Linked DNA regions of Homo sapiens: region 2 is linked to region 1. Evidence: fine-mapped expression QTL. A gene starts in region 1. The other region holds a variant in brackets. All regions are shown on one strand. Distances are from middle to middle.

Region 1 (8,332 bases):
AAACATTTAAACTATACAACGTTATATGATACCAACAAAATGTGAACATTAAGAAATACCTTCCAATCATCCATCTTCAAGAATCTCAAAATATTTTACAACCATTTGTTTAAGTTCTGGTTATGATTCTATTTAAAACCCACACATTATAATTTTTCTGTTTATAGTTTATATTATGACTATTCTCAAGTTGAGGAAATGGAAACACAGAAGGGATTTTGCTGAGAGCTAAAACTAAAAACTACCTTTCCAGAATTTGTTGGTTAGCAGCAACTTTTACAAAGGCTTTTTATCTTTCTTTCCTAATTTTATCCTTTGAGTTCTAAAGTTATCATCATAGGCCCACTCTTATGTGTGAAGTATCCAAAGTGACATAAATAATTGTTCATCTTTTTGAAATAGTTGCTTAAACAAAAGGAACATTTTCAGATTATGTAATGTCAAATGAATAAACAGTATTGGAAATTGAAAATATTTTGGGAGTATTCTTTCAAGTACATTTTACATTTTAAAATACATTTTGAATATTACAAATAAAATCCTTTTAAAGGACTGACTTAACTTTTGTATTCTTGGGTTAAAACAACTAAAGTAATGTGGTGGATTCAAACAATCATACTTGAAATATCTGCATCCCTTTCGTTAACAGAGGCCAGGAAATATGCAAATATTTGAGTGGGCATATTAACTGGATTAACTTTAAAATGTATCACTTATATCCTTAACATACTTAAAACAGTGAACTGAAATTAAATCCAAATAAATTTTAGTCCGGATGTAAACACTGCAGAGAGCAGTGGAACTATGGTCTGGGTTCCACTTGAGCTTTGTCATTTAGGGCACAAATCAAGCTCTCTGAGGCTCAGTTTCTCAATCTGTACAGTGGCATAATAATATACAAGATTCTTAGTGTGGATTAAATAAAATAATTTATTTCTAGATATTGTTATAATTCAAAGTACAACAATATCAACATTGATGTCCTGGTTAAATAATTTCAAATGAAAATTACTTACATTACCCAAGCTTTATTTCCTTTGATTAATAAATCTAAATGTCTTGGTGAGGTAAGTGGTAGCATATAATTTAAGACATTGTTAAAACCAGAAAATAAAGGAGTAAAGTGAAATTTTCACCTTTAAATTATCAAAAATATGTTTGTACCAACTTGCAATAAATGCCTGAACGAAAAAAAACATATTTTAATCTTACTAAATAATGGATTTTCTTACATTTCTGGAATTATGTTATGCTAAGGACAAGATGGAAACGAATCAATGAAAAATCTTATTCTTCAATTTGTTTTCTTTTTTCTTTTTTTTTTTTTTTTGAGAGGGAGTCTCACTCTGTCACCCAGGCTGGAGTGCAGTGGCATGATCTTGGCTCACTGCAACCTCCACCTCCCTGGTTTAAGATTCTCCTGCCTCAGTCTCCCAAGTAGCTGGGATTACAGGTGCCTGCCCCCACACCCGGCTGATTTTTGTATTTTTAGTAGAGATGGGGTTTCGCCATGTTGGCCAGGCTGGTCTTGAACTCCCGAACTCAGGTGATCCACCCGCCTCAGCCCCCCAGAGTGCTGGGATTACAGGCACGAGCCATGGCGCCCGGCCCTTAACTTATTTTCAAAGCAAAGTATGTATTCTGCAAACACTGTATTTAAAAGATTGTAGCCGGGCGCGGTGGCTCACGCCTGTAATCCCAGCACTTTGGGAGGCTGAGGCGAGCGGATCACGAGGTCAGGAGATCGAGACCATACTGGCTAACACAGTGAAACCCCGTATCTACTAAAAATACAAAAAAATTAGCCGGGCGTGGTGGCGGGTGCCTGTAGTCCCAGCTACTCGGGAGGCTGAGGCAGGAGAATGGCGTGAACCTGGGAGGTGGAGCTTGCAGTGAGCGGAGATTGCGTCACTGCACTCCAGCCTGGGCGACAGAGCAAGACTCCGTCTCAAAAAAAAAAAAAAAAAATTGTTCCTGGGCTGGGCGCTGTGGCCTGAAATCCTAGCACTTTGGGAGGCCGAGGCGGGAGGATGGCTGGAGCCCAGAAGTTCGAGACCAGCCTGGGGAACATGGTGAAACCCGGTCTCTAAAAACAATACAAAAATTAGCCGGGCATGATGGCAGGTGCCTGTAATCCCAGCTACTGGGGAGGCTGAGACGGAAGAACTGCTTGAACCAGGGAGACAGAGGTTGCAGTGATCCGAGATCGCACCACTGCACTCCAGCCTGGGCAACAGAAGGAGACTCCGTCTCAAAAAACAAAACAAAACGGCTGGACGCGGTGGCTCATGCCTGTAATCCCAGCACTTTGGGAGGCCGAGGTGCGCGGATCACCCGAGGTTGGGAGTTCGAGACCAGCCTGACCAACATGGAGAAACCCTGTCTCTACTAAAAATACAAAATTAGCCAGGCGTGGTGGCGCATGCCTGTAATCCCAGCTACTCCGGAGGCTGAGGCAGGAGAATAACTTGAGCCCCGGAGGCAGAGGTTGAGGTGAGCCGAGATCGCACCACTGCACTCCAGCCTGGGCAACAAGAGCAAAACTCCATCTCAAAAACAAAAAACAAAAACAAAACAAACAAAAAAAACAGCCGGGCGTGGTGGCGCGTGCCTCAGGAAGCTGAGGCACAAGAATCGCCTGAGCCCGGCTGGCGGAGGTTGCAGTGAGCCGAGATGGCGCCACTGCACTCCAGCCTAGGAGACAGAGCAAGACTCTGTCTCAAAAAAAAAAAAAAAAAAAAAAAGTTTTCCCTGGTTTTCTCTTCCTTAACTGTGGAGCCATTAAACACCTATGAATCGGTGGCTCGAGTAAATCCATTTGAGAATAAATCGTCTAACAGAGGCAGAGTTTACTAAAGGACCTGCGATGTGTAGCAATCGTAGAAGGAAGCGGAGCCAGTCAACATCACGCTGCCGAAGACGTCGGTTAACCTGCTGCCGGCGTCGGCGCCGAGGTTCCAACAGCGATTCGCACCTCCGGGGAACGCGACTTTGGGCTGCAGCACACGGGAATAGGAAATATCAGAAAGTGGTCACGAGGGTGACGCCGGAGCTGAAACGGCCCGACACCTGTTCTACCTCGGCTGTTCGGCTCAATTCCGAACCCTCTCAGAGGACACGAATGTGGGGGCCCGCGCTTCCAGCCTCGGGATTCTCACTCTCCCCTCGGGCCCCCTGAGTGCTGACCCCGAGGGGCGCCCCTCCCCGGCCACCGCCTCAGCGCGACGGCTGCCTCCCGGGAATCGCGGCGACCCGCGCTCCGTCCGGCCCGTCCAGTCAGCCCGCGCCGCGCCCCCCGCCCGCCCGCCCCGTTCGGCCTCCCCACCGACGACCCGCCTCTGCCGCCCCGTCTAGGGACGCGCCCCCTCCTCAGCCTCTCCTCCTCGTCGCCTCTTGCAAGTCTGGCCGCCCCCTGGACCCTGCCCTTCCTCATCCATTACCTCAAGTCCTTCCTCCCTCAGGCCTGAGGGGTGAGGGCGCGGGCAGGTGTCTCCGCGTCTCACCTCCATGGGGCGCCCCCCAGCCTCTCCTGGACTAGGCACAGCTCCTGGGGTACGGGGGTGATGGGGGGGGCGTCCAGGCCCGGCTCCCTCAGCCCGCACCCCGCCGTCTCCGCAGCCGCCTCCGCCGCCCGGGCGCTGCCTGGAGCCAGTGTGCGGGTAAGGGAAGTCCGAGCGGGGAGGGAGGGGCGGGGGCAGAGGCCGTTACCTGGCCTGCCTGGGGCTCGCGGCTCGGCACGCGACACGGCACAGGCGCGCCCCGCCCCGCTGTGAGGCCCGCCCCTCCCGTTTCGCAGCCCGCCATTGGTCCGATGCCCATCCAATGGGCGACCACTCCAGGCTCCGTTACCCCCCAGAGACAAGGAGAGGAAGGGGCGGTTAGCGGACCACGCTCTCTCGCCGCTTCTGAGCTTTTCCCGCTCAAAGTAAATGTGTTCGGGATTGGCCCGGACTGGCAGGCACCGGCCCGATGATTTGCTGATAGGGCAGCGGAGAGGCCGGTCGTGGAAGGTTGAAAGAGCTAAAGAGCGCAGCCCTACCGGGTGGGAGAGGTGTTGGAGGCACTTGGAAGATTTGAGAAGTCGCTCAGCAACTGGCTTATCCTCCAAAACCTAGCTGTTGCGCACATTTCATTTGTCCGACATTTCATATTTGTTCCTTAGTCCCTCCCGTAGCTTCAGAATCCGTTGGAGCTGCCCAGAGACTGATATATCTTGTACCGGTTTGGGGAGGGCGAGGAGCAACTTGTGGATTGGGTGTTGCTGGGAGACCCCTTTTTGAGGGAGAGCTGCCCTGTGTCCTAAGCCCGGGCTTTCAGTCCGGGTTAAGGCATTTAAGTGTTAATGTGACTTTTGAACAAAGTTCGCTGTGACCTTTTTGTTCGTTTTTGTTTGTCTGTGTAAAACAGGGTCTTGCTCTGTCGCCCAGGCTGGAGTGCAGTGGCGCTATCATAGCTCGTTGCAGCCTTGAACTCCCGGGTTCAAGCGACCCTCCCGCCTCAGCCTCCCGAGTAGCTGGGGCTGCAGGCACGCGGCGCCACCACTCCTGGCTAATTTTTTAATTTTTTTGTAAAGCTGAAGGGCGGGGGGGTTGGGTCTCCTTATGTTGCCCAGGCTGGTCTCAAACTCCTGGTCTCGAGCGATCCTCCCGCCTCAGCCTCCCGAGTAGTTGGGGCTACAGGCGCGTGCCACCACTCCCAGCTAATTTTTTTTTTTTTTTTTTTTTTGGTGAGATGGAGTCTCACTGTCGCCAGGCTAGAGTGCGGTGGCGCAAAGGCTCACTGCAACCTCCGCCTCCCGGGTTCAAGCGATTCTCCCGCCTCAGCCTCCCGAGTAGCTAGGACTACAGGCCCACGCCACCACGCCCCGCTAATTTTTGTATTTTTAGTAGAGACGGGAATTTCACCATGTTGTCCAGGATGGTCTCGATCTCTTGACCTCGTGATCCGCCCGCCTCGGCCTCCCAAAATTCTGGGATTACAGGCGTGAGCCACGGCGCCTGGCCCTAGCTAATTTTTTAATTTTTTTGTAGAGCTGGGGTTGGAGGTGGGGATGGGGGTAGGGGGTTGGATCTCCTTATGTTGCTCAGGCTGGTCTTGAACTGAACTCTTGGCCTGAAGTGATCCTCCGCCTCGGCCTCCCAAAGTGTGGGATTACAGGTGAGAGCTTACATAAACAAGCCATTCCAGGCACCCAACAAACCATTCACATAGCAGTCAGATTGGGGATGTGATGGTCTCAGAGAAATGCTAGTTTTTGTCCCTAGACACTGCTAAAAAATCAGATAGTTGAAATATAAAAGAAGTAAACACAGTAAGCACCTTTAGGCTGTTTTTATATTTAAAATCAAAACTTGAGAAATGAGCACTTAAGTGGAAGATACTGTTTTAACTCAGACACGAATGGAAGTAGGAGGATGAGTTTTATTGACCCATATTGTCCTGATAGTTACTTCAGGTCTCTACTCAGCTTTGAGTTCAGAAAGCTCACCAAGGCTGGGCGCAGTGGCTTGTGCCTGTAATCCCAGCACTTTGGGAGGCCGAGGCAGGAGGATTGCTTGAGCCCAGGAGTTGCCCAGCCAGGGCAACATAAGGAGACTTCGTCTCTACAAAAAAATTAACAATTAGTTGGGTGTGGTGGTGTGTGCCTGTAGTCCCAGGTACCTGCACTTGGGAGGCTGAGATGGGAGGATCGCCTGAGCTGGAGAGTTGGAGGATGCAGTGAGCCATAATCACTCCATCACACTCCAGCCTGGGCAACAGAGCAAGACCCTGTTTCAAAAAAAAAAAAAAAAAAAAAGGAAGAAAGAAAAGAAAAAAAGCTGCTGGACTCACACCTGTAATCCCAGCATTTAGGGAAGCAAAGGCAGGAGGATAGATTGAGCCCAGGAGTTTGAGATTTGCCTGGGGAATATAGTGCTCCACAAAAAGGAAAAACAAAATGTGCATGCACACACACACACACACACACAAACACACACACACGCACACACACTTAAAAAAAGCTGACCAGGTGGTGTGGCTCTAACAGTTACATTTCTCTGCCTCAGCCTTAAAGTTGCTGGTGTAGGGCTCATTGCATTGAGGACTACTGGCTTTTTCCCCCTCTCCTATACTCCCTAGAAGCATTTTGAAAAGCTATGAATCCCCTTATGTATTTTTATAGTAAAATATACATAAGATTTGTCGTTTTTAAGTGTTTGGTTAAGTGGCATTAAGCACATTCATAATGTTGTGTAACCATGACCGCTCTACAGTTTCAGAACTTCATTAATCACAAACAGAAACTCTGCAGCATCCCATAAATAATTATTCCCCATGCCCCCTTCTCCCAGTTCTGGCAACCACCATTCTACTTTCTATCTCTATGAATTTGACTACTCTAGGTACCATATATAAGTGGAATCATACAATATTTATCCTTTTGTGCCTGGCTTATTTTACTAAGGTAAAATAAACCTTGTCATCAAGGTTCCTTCATGTTATAGCATATACCTGAATGTCATTCCTTTTTATGGCTGACTAAGGTTCCATTGTATGGATATACCACATTTTGTTCAAGCATTCATCTGTTTATGGACACATGGGTGGTTTCCACCTTTTTTTTTTTTTTTTGAGTCAGAGTCTTGCTCTGTGCTGCAGGCTGGAGTGCAGGCGCAATCTTGGCTCACTGCAACCTCCCCCTTATCGGAGGAATCGTTCAGATGATTCTCCTGCCTCAGCTTCCCCAGGAGCTGGGATTACAGGCATGTGCCACCAAACCTGGCTAATTTTTTTTTTTTTTTGAGACAGAGTCTTGCTCTGTCACCCAGGTTGGAGTGCAGTGGCATGATCTCAGCTCACTGCAACCTCTGCCTCCTGGGTTCAAGTGATTCTCCTGTCTCAGCCTCCTGAGTAGCTGGGATTACAGGCATGAATCACCATGCCTGGCTGATTTTTGTATTTTTAGTAGAGACAGGGTTTTGCCATGTTGGACAGGCTGGCCTCGAACTCCTGACCTCTGGTGATCCGCCTGCCTCAGCCTCCCACAGTGCTGGGATTACAGGTTTGAGCCACCGTGCCCCGCCTAATTTTTGTATTTTTAATAGAAATGGGATCTCACCATGTTGGCCAGGGTGTTCTCGACCTCTTGACCTCAAGTGATCTGCCTGCCTTGACCTCTCAAAGTGATTACAGGCATGAGTCACCGCGCTTGGCTCTCAACTTTTCACTATTGTGCGTAGTACTGCTAGAAACATTGGTGTACAAGTATTTGATTAATTTTTTTTCCAATTATTTTGGGTATATACCTAAGAGTGGTATTGTTGGGACATATGGTAATTGTATTCGATGTCTTGAGTAATTCCAAAATGTTTTACACTGTGGCTGCACCATTTTACATTCTCACCAACAATGCATGAGAGTTCCCATTTCTCCACATCCTCACCAACACTTGTTATTTTCTTTTTCTTTTTCTTTCTTTCTTTCTTTTTTTTTTTTTGAGACAGAGTCTCCCTCTGTCACCCAGCCTGGAGTAGAGTGGCACGATCTTGGTTCATTGTAACCTCTGCCTCCCAGGTTCAAGGGATTTTCATGCCTCAGCCTCCCGAGTAGCTGGGATTACAGGCACGCACAACCACGCCTGGCTAAATTTTTGTATTTTTAGTAGAGACAGGGTTTTTCCATGTTACCCAGGCTGGTCTCGAACTCCTGAGCTCAGGCAATCCGCCTGCCTCGGCCTCCCAAAGTGCTAGGATTACAGGCGTGAGCCACTGCACCCAGCCTATTTTTTCTTTTTAAAATTTCTCTCTCTATAGATATACATATAGATAGATATAAATAGATATAGAGAGATCTATCTCTGTATATCTATCTATATATATCTATCTCTATATATAGACAGGGAGATATATCTATAGATCTATATATATCTATATATCCCTGTATAGATCTATATATAGTAATCTATGGTAATCTGAAATTACTATATATATGTATTACTGTATGTGTGTGTATATATATATATATGTATACACACACACACAGAGATTGAGAGAGAGAGATGGGATCTTGCTCTGCTGCCCAGCGTAGACTGGTAGACCACAGTGGCATGATCATAGCTTACTGAATACTCAAACTCCTGGCTTCAAGTGATCCTCCCCACTCAGCCTCCCAAAGTGCTGGGATTACAGGCACCACACCCAGTCTCTTTTTCTTTCTTTAAAAAAAAAAAAAAATATATATATATGTATATATATACATACATATATATATATATATATATATATTTTTTTTTTTTTTTTTGTAAAAACAGGGTCTTTCTGTGTTGCCCAGGCTGGTCTTGAACTTCTGGCCT
Region 2 (8,332 bases), 30 kb after region 1:
CTGTATTTTTTGTAGCGATGGGGTTTCACCATGTTGCCCAGGCTGGCCTCTAACTCCTAACCTCAAGTGATCCTCCTGTCATGGCCTCCCAAAGTGCTAGTGAAATGGGAAGAGTTCCCTTGTCCCCCTTGCAGGGCATACGATAGGGGTGTGGCTCGCTTCTTCAGTGCCCCGCTGCTCAAACTTCTAGGGGAGACATACAGACAGGCAGGCTGTGGGGCTCCGGCCCTACCGCAGTGTCTAAGAGTGAATGCTTACAGCTCCTGGCGCCCCAGTGGGCGCGTGTTACAGGGTGCTCTTTCAGCTTTGCTGTCGATAAGTGGCTTGTCTTACCAGCTCAATTAGACTTCTTCCTTGGCGCAGAGACCGAGAACAGAGGGCTTTCTGTATCCCGGGGTTCTTCCCTTGGTGTACCAGAATCGGATCACATGTGGGCTTGGAGTATGAGTGCAAGGTTTTATTGAGTGGAAGTCGCTCTCAGAATATGGGACAGCCAGAAGGTAAATGGTTGTCGCCTAGGAATCAGGCCGCTCGGTGGCCCGCGCTCTCCTCTGACTGCCTCAGCCAAACTCTGTGTTGCTCTGCCTGATCAGTGGCCTGCCAGCATGCCGGTGCCTATCAGTGCGTTCCTCTCAACGCCTAGCCAATGTGTGTGCCTCCGCTGACGTGCTCCTCCTCAACATCCAGCGGCTTGGCTTGGCTTTCCTTGGGGGGGGTAGATCTCGGGTTTTTATAGGCACAGGATGGGGGCGTGGCAGGACAGGGTGGACTTGGGAAACGCAACATTTGGGCAGGAAAACAAAAATGCCTGTCCTCACCTAGGTCCGTGGGGGTGGAGCCCTAGCCAAGGACTACGCCCTCCTGTACCCAGCACTTCCGTTACCCCTTTCTGTATCATTTAAAGGCACCACACACTTCCCTTCCTAGCACTTACGTATCAGTTTCAACAGAAGAGAATGATTTCCTGGGTTCTCAGTTTTTCTCCCTGACTCGGGGTACCAGCCCAGTGTCTAAAGGCTCTTCGGGGTGGCGGTGGGCCGTGTTTTTCTTTCTCTCTCTCCTCTGATTGGGACAGAAATGTCTTACTCGCCTGAGTGAGCAGGGCACACAAGCAGGCGGGCTCTCTCTCCGGCCGGCTTTGAAGCCGACTAATTAGGGCTTGGGCTGTCACAGCTGGCTTCCCCTGCGCCTCCCCTGACCCTGCCCCTGCCGCTGCCCCTGCCTCCCAGCCTGAGAGCTCCTCCCCTGCTGCCTTGTCTTCCACGGCCGACTGGTGGCTCTGCCAAGCCATCCGGCAAGGCCCTGGGATCTGAGGCCTGGAAGGGCCAAGGCAAAAGCAACCGAGAAGGGACAAGATGAGGCGTGGGACATGGAGCGAGCCCACAGACCACGGGGTTTCTAGAGGACTGCCTCTTTCTGGAACCCCTCATTCATAAGGAAGCCTGGAAGAGAGCCGCCTGGGCTAGGGACTGAGCCGTGGGCCCTTTATTTGAAAGCCAAAGCTTTCCGAAGGCTCCAGCCTCTCAGCCTGGCCCTTATAATTAGCCCCAATCAAAGTGTTTATGTCAGGGCCTACTGCGGAACTCAGGGCCCCATGATTTCATTCCAAACCTGGGGGGAGGAGAGGGGAGTGAGAGGGACTTGTGTTGGTACAAAGAAAACAGAGGGATGGGTAAGAAAGTTGGTGAGTGAAGAGGAGGCCGTCCTGGAGCAGGGAGGACAATCAGCCTCCGTTTGGCCATCAGCACAGGGGTCAGGAATCCACCTAGAGGAGCTGGTGCCCCAGCATCCTGACCTGGGCCCGGCCTGCCTGCCTTCTGGGCAGGCTCTGTGGGTGGGTGGGCTTGTGCCAATCGGAAATGGCTCGGATATAATTAACCCAACTAATCACCAGCCTCAGCCCTGTGGGAGGGGAGGGCACAGCCCATAGCCACGGCCCCCCCAGGAAGCTCCCATCTCCCCATGCTCCCTCCTCTGACTGGGGCCTGGGGTGTTCCAGGCTCTGCAGCTGCTTTGGATGGTAGAATCAGAGGGCGGGCAGGGAAGGGATGTGGGAAGAGACATGTTGCTTATTCTTATCTCTGGCCTCAAGGGGGATGTGACCGGAGGGAGTGTGCCTGAGTGTCTGAGCTGGCAAGGGTGGGTGGGGGGTGACTGAAGGGATTGTGGGGGAGGGCTTGGAGAGAGACTCCCAGCCATGGCTCCCAGGTGGCACTGGCTGTGTCCCACACTCAGTTAGCACTGCCCTCCTGTCTAGCCCTCCCGGGGAACTCTCCCGAGTGGGATACAGCTTGTAGGGAATTCTGTGTACTGGGTTTCGTGTCCTGGGCAGGGCAGGTGGAGTGTGGCATCTGAGTTCATATCTCCCTTGCGAACAGTCCTGCGAGGCCTCCAAGGGGTATCCCAACACCCTTCCTCCCTCAGCAAGTGAAGCTTTCCAGGATCTGGACCTGGCTCCTCTCTCCAGTTTCACTTCTCTGCACTTCTGGGCTCCGGCCTCGGGACTCTCACCTTCTCAGACCAACCATACCAGTGGCCTGAATGCTCTTCCCTTCCTCTGATCTGAACATTAACTACCAGTAGCCTCAGAACTTGCCTCAGGTCAGGTGGCCCCTCTGCCGTCAACCACACCTGTCCAACCCTCTGACACCCTCTGTCCCTAGCATCGTGTTCTCACTTGCCAGAGCACGTCACATTCTTTTTAGTTATTTGTTGCCTTTCTTCAGTGTGACCTCCTTAAGGAAAGTCTGTGTTTGGTGTGTCTTTTATCTCTGTATATCAGAACCTAGCAAGATGCCTGGCGCATATGGGTGCCCAAGATCATAGGCTCAGGAGCCAGGCTACCAGGGCTTGAATTCTGCCTCAGCCATGGCTAGCTGTTGACCTTGAGCAAGTTCATTCACCTCTCTGTATTATGTGTAAATGAGGATAGTAATTAATTGTACCTACCATGTAACTAGTTTGAGGATTAAATTAAATAAAGTGTTTAAAACAATGTTCACCACATAGTAAACACTTAGTAAAGTCTTGCTGGGCTTATTCATTCATGTGTTGGCTCAGTGGATGTGTCTTTAGTACTTACCATGAGTTAGGCACTTGCTAAGCTCAAAAGAGGCACAAATGCAGTCCCTGCCACATGCAACTTCCTATCATTGAATGAATACATGGATAAGTATTTGGTGTGGTACTTGTAGGTTTGTTATATGTTTTGTTAAACAAACTCATATAAATGTTTGAGAATGTGTCCAGCTCAAATATTGAATAATTATGTATCTATTTGGATGGCATAAAACAAGCAATGAAGTGGGGGTAATCCCCTATAAACCTGACAGATGAGCCGGACGTGGTGGCTCATGCCTGTAATCCCAGCACTTTGGGAGGCCAAGACGGGCAGATCATGAGGTCAAGAGATTAAGACCATCCTGACCAACATGGTGAAACTTTGTCTCTACTAAAAATACAAAAATGATCTGGGTATGGTGGCGTGCACCTATAGTCCAAGCTACTCTGGAGGCTGAGGCAGGAGAATCGTTTGAACCTGGGAGGCGGAGGTTGCAGTGAGCCAAGATCGTGCTACTGCACTCCAGCCTGGAGACAGAGCAAGACTCCGTCTCAAAAACAAAACAAAA[CA/A]AAAAAAACAACCTGACAGATGTAATGGCGATTGGAGCCTGTGGAAAAGCTTGTCCGGGGCAGAGGGTCTTGGAAACCTCCTGCCCAATCTTCATTGTTAATGAGAATGTCAAAAAAAAAGGTTTTTTTTACAAAGCAAAATAATTACTCTCATAGAAATATACAATAATCGTGTCAAAATTTTTATTTAACTCATTAATTAGTGAAGGAACCAGTAAGATGTTACAGTCAGTTCAAAGGACGATCCAAAGAGCAGAGACGTATTTAGGCCATCCAGAATGATGAAATAGGCTGGGCGTTGTGGCTCACACCTGTAATCCCAGCACTTTGGGAGGCTGAGGCAGGTGGATCACTTGAGGCTAGGAGTTCAAGACCAGCCTGGCCAACATGGCAAAACACTGTCTCTACTAAAAATACAAAAATTAGCCAGGCATGGGGGTGCATGCCTGTAATCCCAACTACTAGGGAGTCAGAGGGATAAGAATCACTTGAGCCTGGGAGGCGGAGGTTGCAGTGAGCCACGTTCGCACCATTGCACTCCAGCCTGGGTGAACGGAGTGAGACTCTGTCTCAAAAAAAAGAAAAAAAAAAAAAAAAAGAATGATGAAGTAGCAACCTGGGCAACATAGTGAGACCCTGTCTCTTCCAAAAATTTAAAAAATTAGTCAGGCATGGTGATGTGCACCTGTAGTCCCAGCTACTCAGGAGATTGAGGCTGCAGTGAGCTAAGATCATGCCTCTGCACTCCAGCCTGGGTGACAGAGCAAGACCCCGTCTTAGAACAAAACAAACCAAACAAAAAGAGTGATTAAGTAGGCACGGCACAGTGGCTCACATCTGTAATGCCAGCACTTTGACAGACCAAGGTAGGAGGATCACTTGAGCCCAGGAGTTCAAGACCAGCCTGGGCAACATGATGAGATCCAAAAAATAATCTACAAAAAATTTTATCTACAAAAAATAATTTTAAAAAATTAAGGATGGTGATGCACACCTGTAGTCCCAGCTACTCAGAAGGCTGAGGCAAGAGGATCACTTGAGCACGGGAAGCTGAAGATGCAGTGAGCCATGATCACACCACTGTACTCCAGCCTGGGCAACAGAGCTGTCTCAGAAAAAAAAAAAAAGATGAAGTAAATCTGCTTAATAGATGCTAAATTGGTCAATAACCACTGAGCAATAATCAATTGCATATGCACCAGGCAATTTGCATTTCTATGGACAAGAATTATTTCCATTGATTGGGTGGTAAAATAGCTCGATGACCATAAAACTAGAAAATAACACACAAGGACAGACAATAATCTTTTTGACCATATTGGAGTCTTTCACAACTCTCCTTGAAAAGAAGTTCTGTACTCAGGTATTTCAAGATGACAAGTGCCACTCACCTCTTTCAAAGAGCTTTAGTGTCAGTAGGGAGCCCAGGGCCAACCAAAGAGAGCTGGGAATCTGCCCACAGTCTCAGGCAGGAATAGCCTTTGTCACCTATTCTTCTCCACCCCAGCACTCTGGCTCCTGTCTCCCTCTCTTCCTCTTTCCCATTCCACCACCATGTCCTGTCAAACTGTGCAGGCAATATATTCACCCCTCTACATGGTAGTCACCATTTATTTTATTTTATTTTATTTTATTTTATTTATTTTTGAGACAGAGTTTGGCTCTGTTGCCCAGGCCAGAGTGCAGTGACAGGAGCTTGGCTCACTGCAACCTCTGCCTCCCGGGTTCAAGTGATTCTCCTGCCTCAGCCTCCCGAGTAACTGGGATTACAGATGCACACCACCACACCCAGCTAATTTTTTGTATTTTTAGTAGAGTTGGGGTTTTGCCATGTTGGCCAGGCTGGTCTTAAACTCCTGACCTCAAGTGATCCGCACTCCTCAGCCTCCCAAAGTGCTGGGATTACAGGCGTGAGCCACCGTGACAGGCCTAGCCACCATTTATTGAATATCTGCACATTCTATGTGCCAGACACTTAACATTCATAATATCATTTAATGTTCTTTGTTGTTGTTGTTTTAATTGAGACGAGATCTCACTCCATCACCCAGGCTGGATACAGTGGCGTGATCATAGCTCACTGCAGCCTTGAACTCCTGAGCTCAAGAGATCCTTGTGCCTCAGCCTCCCAAGTAGCTGGGACTACAGGCGTGTACCACCAAACCCGGCTAATTTTTAAAATTTTTTTGTAGAGTTGGGGTCTTGTTATGTTGCCCAGGCTAGTCTCAAACCCCTGGGCTCAAGCAATCCTCCTGCCTTGGCCTCCCAAAGTGCTGGGATTACAGGCACGAGCCACCACACCCAGCCTCATTTAACATCCAAAACTACAAAATGAGGGCTCTCTTTACCTCAAATTACAACATATTTAAATAACTGATGTTCATGAAAGCTGCTGTAAGGGCATCAAACTAGCCAGAGTGGAGCAAAAGTAGTCAGACTCTTAACCACAATACCAGAAATAGCAAGTGGGGTTATTTCTCATGCCAACTGTAATTAATTGGGTGACTACCTGGAGTACTGTGGTGAGATGGATTCTGAAGCATCCTTTTGGCTTAGTGGGAGATAGTGCTGGGATCCACTAGTGATGTCTGCCATGGTCACAGAATCAAAGAATGGAAGGGTAGGCACGCGGGCCAGATTTTTGTCAGGCTTGCTTTGTGTATTGTCTCCTGCATCATCTTCTGAACACCTTACTGATGTTGCTGATGGCAGCTACTCCCTTTAAGGGCTGAATCCTCAGCGTCTGGATCATAATGCTAGTTTTCTAGGTCTTTGCTACTCAAAGTGTGATTCCAACTGCGTTCTGGCCCCTCCTCTACCCTTCCAACAGTGCCATCACCTGGGAGCTTGTTAGAAAAGCAGGATCTTGGGGCTGACCTCATACCTTCTGAATCAGAAGTTGCATTTTAACAAGATTCCCAGGGAATTTGCACATTCAAGTGTGAGGAGCACTGATCTTTTATTTCATTTTTTTTCAGATGGAGTTTTGCTCTGTCACCCAGGCTGGAGTGCAGTGGTGCAACCTCGGCTGACTGCCAACTCCGCCTCCCAGGTTCAAGTGATTCCCCTGCCTCAGGAGAGTAGCTGGGATTACAGGTGTAAGCCACCTCACCTGGCTAATTTTTGTATTTTTAGTAGAGATGGGGTTTTACCATGTTGGCCAGGCTGGTCTTGAACTCCTGACCTCAAGTGATCTGCCCCCCTCGGCCTCCCAAAGTGCTGGGATTACAGGCGTGAGCCACCACGCCCAGCCAGGAGCACTGATCTTGAGGACTGCTTTTTTCAACTGCACCTGCCCCCACCTCAGCAGCCAGAATTATTTTCTTCCAGCAGGGTACTGGCTCAGTCCCAGTCTAAGTATTCCCAGCAGACCCTAACACTTAACCCAATGTTTACAGGCTATTTCGGACTTTGAGACATCCTCCCCAACATTAGAAAAACCCTGCAGAATTCTCTGGCTTTTCCCACTATGGGTGTGAGGGCCTGTGGGCCTGCTGGGCCCACCTCTACAACATGGAATCCTTCCCTGTTTTCGGAGACTCTGCAGAATCTCCCTGGGGCCTCAAGAATGCAGCCCAAACTTTACACTCTAGCCTTTGGGACCCTTGCCCCTTCTCATAGCAGCCCGGGGAATTGGGGTGGAGTTGGACAGAGCAAAGACATGGAGGAGAAATAGTTGCTGAATCTGGGAGCAATAGCTGTTCATTCAATCATTAGTTCAACCAGTGTTTGTTGAAAATTATTGTGTGCCAAGCACTAGTGATATGGCAATGAGTAGAGCATGGTCTCTGCTCTTGAGGAAAGTGGAGCTATTAATATATACAGATCGCCGGGCATGGTGGTTTACGCCTGTAATCCTAGCACTTTGGGAGGCCCAGGCAGGCGGATTATCTGAGGTCAAGGGGTCGAGATCAGCCTCACCCACATGGCGAAACCCTGTCTCTACTAAAAATACAAAAATTAGCCAGGTGTGATGTCACATGCCTGTAATCCCAGCTACTCGGGAGGCTGAGGCAGGAGAATTGCTCGAACCCAGGAGGCGGAGGTTGCCGTGAACAGAGATCACACCACTGCACTCTAGCCTGGCAACAGAGTGAGACTCTGTCTAAAATAATAATAATAATAATATATACAGATCATTGCAATATCATGTGATACAAAAGGCAGACACTAGGGTTGTCAGGAAAAAGAGGGGGCAAGGGCATTCCATGCAGAGAGAACAGTATGGGCAAAGCTGCAGAAGAATGGAAGAATGTGGCATGATCAGGGAGCGGTGAGTACGCATGGGACAGAGGATGAGTATGGGGAAGAGTGTGGCAGGGCTGGTTAGATGGAGGATTTGGGCTGACCCCTGCAGAATTTGGATCTCACTTTGGCTTCCTTGGATTTATAGAATGTGTGTGAGCCATCCAGCCTGCTCTTAGCACCAGAACTTACTTCTATACTGACTCGAGCCAGTCAGAACCAGGAGGCATTTATGCACACACGTGCATGCACACCCCAGAGAACACATCAAAGTCAGACTCCCCAGTCAGTGACTGACTGGGTTTCATCCCTACCGACACCCCCTGTTCACACTAGTGGGAGCAGGAATGGTCAGTTAATTAACTTCCCAGGAAAAACTCTAGGGCAGGACTTTGGGTCTCCTTGACCTGAAAAACGGATAGAAATGGAGAGAGGGCTGGCTACACAGATGTACCAG

Alleles and levels. Positions count from the first base shown, and alleles are read on the strand shown. Sizes are in standard deviations (SD) of each study's normalised expression.
As copies of A replace CA in region 2, the expression in prefrontal cortex of the gene that starts at base 3,655 in region 1 goes down (small effect, 0.26 SD a copy in CommonMind).

Evidence for each region. PIP is the estimated chance that this variant, and not a neighbour inherited with it, causes the effect.
Region 2: its variant is the best candidate, but not a certain one, in a credible set for the expression of MEIOC in prefrontal cortex (CommonMind, PIP 0.58).

Annotation. Positions count from the first base shown.
Region 1 is chr17:44,651,791-44,660,122 of GRCh38, reverse strand. MEIOC (meiosis specific with coiled-coil domain) reads right to left here and starts at 3,655. Exons shown (of 8, transcript NM_001145080.3): 1 at 3,441-3,655; 2 at 2,862-2,996. The coding sequence starts at 3,509. RefSeq lists a silencer at 3,642-3,851.
Region 2 is chr17:44,621,424-44,629,755 of GRCh38, reverse strand. No RefSeq gene overlaps it. Among named protein-coding and RNA genes, the nearest start is that of LINC01180, 25 kb to the left of the region's middle. RefSeq lists an enhancer at 902-1,061 and a silencer at 1,172-1,291. The variant CA/A (reference allele first, on the strand shown) is at 3,630.